Homo sapiens: one gene and its partner. The protein of the gene in region 1 purifies or fractionates together with the protein of each later gene. This does not show direct contact. Each region holds a gene or a part of one and is shown in the gene's direction. Other genes may lie near its edges.

What was found.
Region 2: the proteins of CORO7 (region 1) and LATS1 purify together in Homo sapiens (affinity purification with western blotting; one study listed by BioGRID). This does not show direct contact.

The regions. Positions count from the first base shown.
Region 1 is NC_000016.10:4,413,738-4,418,295, reverse strand, and holds the start of CORO7 (coronin-7), read left to right. Parts: upstream 1-1,699; 5' UTR 1,700-1,777; coding exon 1,778-1,837; intron 1,838-2,398; exon of another isoform or gene 2,399-2,581; intron 2,582-4,558. Other genes in the region: CORO7-PAM16 protein, read left to right, coding at 1,778-1,837. UniProt on the Homo sapiens protein: F-actin regulator involved in anterograde Golgi to endosome transport: upon ubiquitination via 'Lys-33'-linked ubiquitin chains by the BCR(KLHL20) E3 ubiquitin ligase complex, interacts with EPS15 and localizes to the trans-Golgi network, where it promotes actin polymerization, thereby facilitating post-Golgi trafficking.
Region 2 is NC_000006.12:149,711,379-149,715,187, reverse strand, and holds part of LATS1 (serine/threonine-protein kinase LATS1), read left to right. Parts: intron 1-3,809. UniProt on the Homo sapiens protein: Negative regulator of YAP1 in the Hippo signaling pathway that plays a pivotal role in organ size control and tumor suppression by restricting proliferation and promoting apoptosis.

The DNA.
Region 1 (4,558 bases):
ATCTCGACTCACTGCAACCTCCGCCTCCCGGGTTCAAGCAGTTCTCTGCCTCAGCCTCCCAAGTAGCTGGGATTACAAGCACCCACCACCACGCCCAGCTAATTTTTATATTTTTAGGACAGACAGGGTTTCACCATCTTGGCCAGGCTGGTCTTGAACTCCTGACCTGGTGATCCACCCACCTTGGCCTCCCAAAGTGCTGGGATTACAGGCGTGAGCTACCGCGCCCGGCCAACCTGATGATTTTCTAAAAACCTTTTTGGACTGGGCGCAGTGGCTTATGCCTCTAATCCCAGCACTTTGGGAGGCTGAGGCAGGTGGATCACTTGAGGTCAGGAGTTTGAGACCAGCCTGGCCAACATGGCAAAATCCCATCTCTACTAAAAATACAAAAATTAGGAGTAGTGGCGCACACCTGTAATCCCAGCTGCTTGGGAGGCTGAAGCAGGAGAATCGCTTGAACTCAGGAGGTGGAGGTTGCAGTGAGCTGAGATGACACCACTGCACTCCAGCCTGGGCAACAGAGTGAGACTCTGTCTCAAAACAAACAAACAAAAAGCCTTTTCAATAAACCACAAGTGACTTTGGTTCACAGTAAATACACTTCTGCCCGAACTAAGATAAAATGTAAGCATTGCTTTTCAAACCTTAGAAATGCAAGAATCAGCTGGGTGCGTTGGCTCATTCCTATAATCCCCACACTTTGGCAGGCCAAGTTGGGAGGACTGCTTGAGTCTCGTTCGAGACCAGCCTGACCATCATGGTGAAACCCCGTCTCTTACTAAAAATAAAAAATTAGTTGGGCGCGGTGGCAGGCGCCTGTAATCCCAGCTATTCGGGAGGCTGAGGCAAGAGAATTGCTTGAACCCGCGAGGCAGAGGGTGCAGTGAGCTGAGATCGCGCCACTGCACTCCAGCCTGGGTGACAGGGACTCCGTGTCAAATAAATGAATAAATACTAAAGAAAAATTAAAAGCTATTATTATTATTATTTTTAGAGGCAGGGTCTCTTTCTGTCTCCCAGGCTGGAGTGCAGTGGCACGGTCACAGATAACTGCAGCCTCGACCTCTTGGGCTCAAGGGATACTCCTGCCTCAGTCTCCCAAAGTTCGGGATTACAGACCTGAGCCACCGCGCCTGGCCGGATGCAGAGCGCCTGGCCGGATGCAGAGGCTTTTGAGTAGGCCCGGTGGACAGGGATTTGCTTTAGACCTGGGCCCCTGTTCCCCCTCTGCCTCTTACCACTGGTGTGACCTGGGGACCGACAGTTTACACTCTCCTTTAGCCGGGGGTTTCCTGTCTCTGAAATGGAGCTAATTTCTCCCCTCTCTACAGGAAGAGGTAGATAGTGCTGGAAGGCGTGCTAGGTACACCGCAAAGACTCCACAGCAAATCCTGCACACAAAATCGCGAATGCTGCAGCCGAGACCCCACGCAAGCAAGCACCGCAGGAGACGTGGGCTGACAGCTGCGCCCCACGTGACCTCCCACCCGCGCCAGTCCGTCCCCTCGGTATCAGGGCGTGGCCTCGCGGGGCGGCCGTACCTGGATTGGCCGGGAGGCGGGACCGGTGGTGCGCGCGCGAAAGGAGAGGGGCTTGGGGGCGTGGCCCAGGGGGCCGGAGACGGCTGCGATTGGCAGTGGGGCGCGCCGGGGGCGTGACCGCGGCATTGGGTCCCGGGTGGGGCCGAGGCAGCGGGAGTCGCGGTTGCTCAGCGTGCACCTGAGACCCGACGCCCGGGGTCCTCGAAGACGCGTCCGCCGCCGTGCCCGTCGCCATGAACCGCTTCAGGGTGTCCAAGTTCCGGCACACCGAGGCTCGGCCGCCCCGCCGCGAGGTGAGTCCGGCCCGAGGACCGGGCGCTGTCGCCTCGGGCCCCGTCCGGCTGCCCCTCCCCCTGCCCGGACCCCACAGGGGTGCCCTCCAGGGCCGTCTGGAACCCCGAGACCTCCATCCCCGGGGAACCCCCCTTCAGGCCAGGGCCCCGGCGTCCGGGCCGTTTCGTCGCCGCCGGAGGGCAGAGTCCGGCACTCCCGTGACTCGCTCTGGCGCTCGGTGACCCTGGCGGTCTGCCCGCCTCGCCCACCTCGCCCCGGGACCCCCGAGGCGGCGCAGCCCTCCTAGCCGGGGCCCAGGCCTGCGAGGCCGCCTGCCTTCCCAGCTTCCGGTCGGCCTCGCCGGGAGCCGGGGCTCGGGGCGCTGCCGGCGCCTGGCTCCTCCTCCCTGCCGCCCCGGGTCGCCCCTGCCCCTGGCTGGGCTGTGGGGAGACGCCCCTCTCTCCTCTGGCCCCGGCGAGCCCAAGTGTGTCAGTGGTGGGGAGGGAGCCCCTCGGCCGCACGCGCCCCTCCCTCGGGTTTCCGCCGGTGCTTCCTCCTCTCGCCGCTGGCGCAAGCTCTTTCTTTATCTCGGTGATGCTGCCACGGCTGGGTGGGGCCTGGGGAAGCCTGAGCAGGTGGAGCCCCAAAGAATTGCTGAGCCAGGTGCCGGGAGACCCTTCGGACCCCCGAAACGGCAGGAGGACTGATGAGGGGTGCGCCTTGGAAACGATGTCAGCTCTGCTCTTCCGCTTTCCGTGTTATTTGTAAGGCCTGGGAGTGTCCTCCGATAACTGGGCCTAGGAGTTGACCTCAAGTGACCCCATCAGGGTCCCAGAGCAAGTCAGGGCAGTCTGGGTAGAGGTTCCGTTTTTGTAGTGTGGACTATATTTCCTCTGCTTCCACTTTATGCTGTGCTAAGCTGCTGGAGACATCCCGGTGAACACAACGGCATTTTCCTTCCCCTGTGGCACTTGTAGCCTCATGAGGGAGACAGCAAGCAGACAAACAAGAGCATTGGAGGTTTTCATAACGACATTGAAGAACACACATGAGGGACTGGGATGGAGAATGGAGGGGGCCAGTCTCAGTAGCGTGGTCAGGAAAGGCTGCCTGGAGTAGATGGCATTTTAGCTGAGGCCAGAAGGGTGAGAATTGAGAAAGAGCCTGGTGGAGAAATGGAAAGTGAGCATGAGTGGATGGAGGGGATGGCCGGAGCAGTATGGTGACAGATGAGTCCAGAGTGGTCCTGCAGAACCCAAGGGCCACCGGAAGAAGTTGGGTTTTATTCTGATTGCAGTGCAGAGCCATTGAAAAGTTAGGGGGAGGGGCTGGATACCATGACTCACGGTAATCCCAGTACTTTGGGTGGACTGCTTTGAGCTCAGGAGTTCGAGACCAGCCTGGGCAACATTGCGAAACCCCTCTGAACAACAAGTTAAAGAAAAAAAAATTAGCCAGGTGTGGTGACTCACTCCCGTGGTCCCAGCTACTTGGGAGGCTGAGGTTGGAGGATCTCTTGAGCCGAGGAAGTGGAGGTTGCAGTGAGCCGAGATTGTGCCACTACACACCAGCCTGGGCAATAGAGTGAGACACTGTCTCAAAAAAAGAAAAAAACAAACAAGAAAAGTTAGGAGGAGGTACCTAGGTTTGCATCAAGACAGCCGGTGGCTCTGAGTGCAGTTAAGTACTGCTTGGAGGGGTCTGGAGAATACTTGAGGGGCCCTAATTCTTGCTCCTGGGTGGGCCTTAGTCCAGCAACATAAACAGATAGGCATGGAACTACAGACTGTAGGGAGAGCTTAAAACAGTTTATGTTAGGGAGGCGGGAGAACAGGTGATCTGTTCTTTTCAGAGATATTTGCAGTCACTGTGTTTATACAGTAAACATGAATCAGGAGGGAGAAATAATAGGGTGGGACTGATGCTGTAACCATGGCAGGTGAACACTGATATAGAAACTTCAGGTGGTGGAGGTGGTTTCCGGGGTGCTATGGGTGGGTGGAGTGGGAAACATGGGTGTCCTGTCATCGAGGGCAGGAAGGAGTGCTGAGCGGTGCTTTGACAACAGAGAAAATGTGTGGACCTTGCAGATCTTAGTTTCAGAAACGTGCTCCTCTGCCTCCCCTTGGGTGGGGGTGTTTCTTTTACTGACTTATGAGACTTTGTGGAAAGGTGTGTCCTGATGAGGCCAGGCCTTGGTGGTTCCCCTCTCTGAGCTTGGGTGTTTTTCTCCGGGTACTTGGAGGAGGCCTGGCCACATTTTGCATTTTCTTTTTTTTTTTTTTTTTGAGATGGAGTCTCGCTCTGTTGCCCAGGCAGGAGTGCAGTGGCATGATCTCGGCTCACTGCAACTTCCGCCTCCCAGGTTCAAGTGATTCTCCTCCCTCAGCCTCCTGAGTAGCTGGAATTGTATGTAGGTGCCCGCCACCATGCCTGGATAATTTTTGTATTTTTAGTAGAGATAAGGTTTCACCATGTTGGCCAGGCTGGTTTCGAACTTCTGACCTCAGGATGATCTGTCTGCCTCAGCCTCCCAAAGTGCTGGGATTACAGGCATGAACCACCGCACCTGGCCCACATTTTACATTTCCTAAGGGACTTCGTGAGTGGGGACAGAGTTTGATTTGAAGTAACACAACACGGCTGGGGGCGGAGGCTCATGCCTGTAATCCCAGCACTTTGGGAGACCAAGGCAGGCAGATCACTTGAGGCCAGGAGTTCGAGACCAGCCTGGCCAACAT
Region 2 (3,809 bases), on another chromosome or scaffold:
CTGAGGCAGGAGAATCACTTGAACCCGAGAGACGGAGGTTGCAGTGAGCTGAGATGGCACCACGGCACTCCAGCCTGCGACAGTGAGACTCTGTCTCAAAAATAAATAAAGAAATAAAGAAATAATAAATAAATAAATAAAAAATAGTACATCTACATGATGAAATTCAATATCGGTATTTAAAGGAATAAGGTTGAACTATCATACTTTATCAATTCTGAAATACCACTAAATCTAAGATAAGCCATCTATTTAGTAGCAATTTTTTAGCAGGAAGAAAGTAAACATAAAGCTTTTATTAATAATAGCATACATTTATTCATTCAATTGTATACCATTTTCGTCTGTCACAATAAAGTTTGAGTCTCAGCCTTATTCACATTCAGAATCTAGGATCCTTCTGAATTACTTCGGTTAGTTAATGCAACATCATGATAACAGGCTGCTTTTCATAATGCTAGTTAATTATCTTAACCTATATTGTCTTTATGATTGTGTGTATAATTTTAAGGTATATTGAAGAATACTGGGGTTTTGCTTGCCTTTCATTTTTGCTTACTTAGTTTTTTTTTCTTCTTCTTAATTGAATTACCTATTGCTGGAAATTAAACAGCTTCTTCTGAAGATAACTCCAAAAGTTTTGGCAGACTTTTGAGTCTGTCTTACCTTTGAAAATTCTGTGATCTTGCTTGAATTTAATAATTACTTATGCCTTTAATTGCATTGTCTATTGAATGACAGTTTGAGTGCACAATACTATGTCACAATGGAATCTTTCAGAACATTTTGTGGACCAGGCATGGTATCATCCCAGTATTTTGGGAGGCTGAGGCAGGAGGAACACTTGAATTCAGGAGTTTGAGACCAGCCTGGGCAACCTAGCAAGATCTCCATCTGTATTTACAAAAATAATAATAGCTGGGCGTGGTAGCTCATGCTTGTAATCCCAGCACTTTGGGAGGCTGAGGTGTGTGGATCACATGAGGTCAGGAGTTCAAGACCAACCTGGCCAACGTGGCAAACCCCTGTCTCTACTAAAAATACAAAAATTAGCCAGGTGTGGTGGTGGGTACCTGTAGTCCCAGCTACTCCGGAGGCTGAGGCATGAGAATCACTTGAACTTGGAAAGCAGAGGTTGCAGTGAGCCAGAATACGACACTGCACTCCAGCCTGAGTGAGACAGTCTCACAAAAAAAAAAAAGTAATAATGATAAAAGAAAAAAAGAGGCCGTGCGCAGTGGTTCATGCCTATATAATCCCAGCACTTCGGGAGGCCGAGGCAGGTGGATCACCTGAGGTTAGGAGTTCAAGACCACCCTGGCCAACATGGTGAAACCCCATCTCTACTAAAAATACAAAAATTAGCCACACATGGTGGCACATGCCTGTAATTCCAGCTACTTGGGAGGCTGAGGCAGGAGAATTGCTTGAACCCGGGAGGCAGAGGTTGCAGTCAGCTGAGATCACGCCATTGCACTCCAACCTGGGCAACAAGAGAGAAACTCCTTCTCAAAAAAACAAAAACAAAACAGAAAAAAAGAAAAAACATTTTGAGCATCATATATGGTGCTGCCAATGAAAATATTACAATTGTCCGGGTATGGTGGCTCACACCTGTAATCGCAGCACTTTGAGAGGCCAAGGCGGGTGGATCACCCGAGGTCAGGCATTCGAGACCAGCCTAGGCAACATGGAGAAACCCCGTCTCTACTAAAAATACAAAAAATTAGCCGGGTGTGGTGGTGGGCTCCTGTAATCCCAGCTACTTGGGAGGCTGAGGCAGAAGAATTGCTTGAACCCGGGAGGCAGAGGTTGCAGTGAGCCGAGATGGCACCATTGCACTCCAGCCTGGGCAACAGAGGGAGACTCTGTCTCAAAAAAAAAAAAAGAAAATAATACAATTGAGGTAACAGAGATTTCGACTTTTATGTATGGTTAAGTTAGGCATGTGCAATGACTGCTACTCTAGAACTTCTCTGCTTTGGAGGGGAGATTGGACCTTGATTTATTTGGAAGGAACTCTCATCCATTGTTTTCATTATCATACTCGGCCACCTGTGAAGTGTGTGTTGGGTGAGTATTCTCTCTTTGGAAGGTACACATCTTTCTCAGCTAGCTTATTGCTCATAGAAGTTGGGGGCCCAAGGGTTGATCTTAAGATATACTCAATTTATTTATTTATTTATTTTTTCTGGGACAGAGTTTTGCTCTGATGCCCGGGCTGGAGTGTAGTGGCACAATCACAGCTCACTGCAGCCTCGACCTCCTGGGCTCAATTGATCCACCCACCTCAGTCTCTCCAGTAGCTGGGACTGCAGGTGCACACCAACATAATTGGCTGATTTTTTCTATTTTTTGTAGAGTTAGGGTCTCACTTTGTTTCCCAGGCTAGTCTCAAACACCTGGGCTCAAGAGATCCGCCCACCTCAGCCTCCAAAAGTTTTGGAATTACAGGCATGAGCCACTGCACCCGGCCCTAACTTTTAGAAATATTAAAATGTAGAAAAGCATGCTTAGAATCAAACAAACATGATACTGGCCGGGCATGGTGGCTCACACCTGTAATCCCAGCACTTTGGGAGGCTAAGGTGGGAGGATCGCTTGAGGCCAGGAGTTTGAGACCAGCCTCGTCAACATAGCGAGACCCTCATCTCTATTCAAAAAGAAAAGAGAGAATAGAAGATAAAATATGGCTGGGCGCAGTGGCTCACACCTGTAATCCCAGCACTTTGGGAGGCCAAGGTGGGCGGTCACCTGAGGTCGGGAGTTCGAGACCAGCCTGACCAACATGGAGAAACTCCGTCTCTACTAAAAATAGAAAATTAACCGGGTGTGGTGGCACATGGCCTGTAATCCCAGCTGCTTGGGAGGCTGAGGCAGGAGAATTGCTTGAACCCGGGAGGTGGAGGTTGCGGTGAGCCAAGATCGCGCCATTGCACTCCAGCCTGGGCAACGAGCGAAACTCCATCTATAAATAAATAAATAAATAAATAAAAGAAACATGACACCTAACTGTGGAAAGATGTTCACGGTATTATGTTATTCTTTTGCTAAGAAATTGGGCCCTGATTAGTGACAGAGGCAAGATTCATGGGTCCTATTATCCACATGCCCAATAATCTCTTAATCAGGTCCAGATATGGTTCCTCTTGGTCCAGGGACCTGTGAAGTAATGTGTCCTGTGTGCTGCGTGTGTGCGCACTCTCTCTCTCTCTGTCACTCACTGTGTCTCCTCTCTATCTCCCTTCCTTTTCTTTTCCCCTTACTCACTCACCGCAGTACACAAGGGCCACAGTAAGCGCTCTTCCTAGAAAAAGAGAATAATGGGAGATAAGCAGCAAATGCTGATCTATAATCTGAAATCTCCTAGGCAGATTCTGTGTAAGCAACCGGGCCTGGAGGTAGGGGAGATTGGACCCTGATTTATTTGGAAGGAACTCTCCCATCCATTGTTTTAATGATCATCCTTGACCACCTGTGAAGTGTGTGTTGTACCTTCCCTTTGGAACGTACAAATCTTTTTCAACTAGCTTCTTGCTCATAGAAGTCGGGGACCCAAGGGTTTTAAATTTTGAATAGACAAGAAGATTTTTTTAGTATGAACTTGAGATGATTTAAGAAAAAAAAATTTCATTTTGTTTTTTGAGATGGAGTCTCACCCTGTCACCCAGGCTAGAGTGCAGTGGCACAATCTCCGCTCACTGCAACCTCCGCCTCCCAGGTTCAAGCAATTCTTCTGCCTCAGCCTCCTGAGTAGCTGGGACTACAGGCACATGCCACCACGCCCAGCTAATTTTTGTATTTTTTAG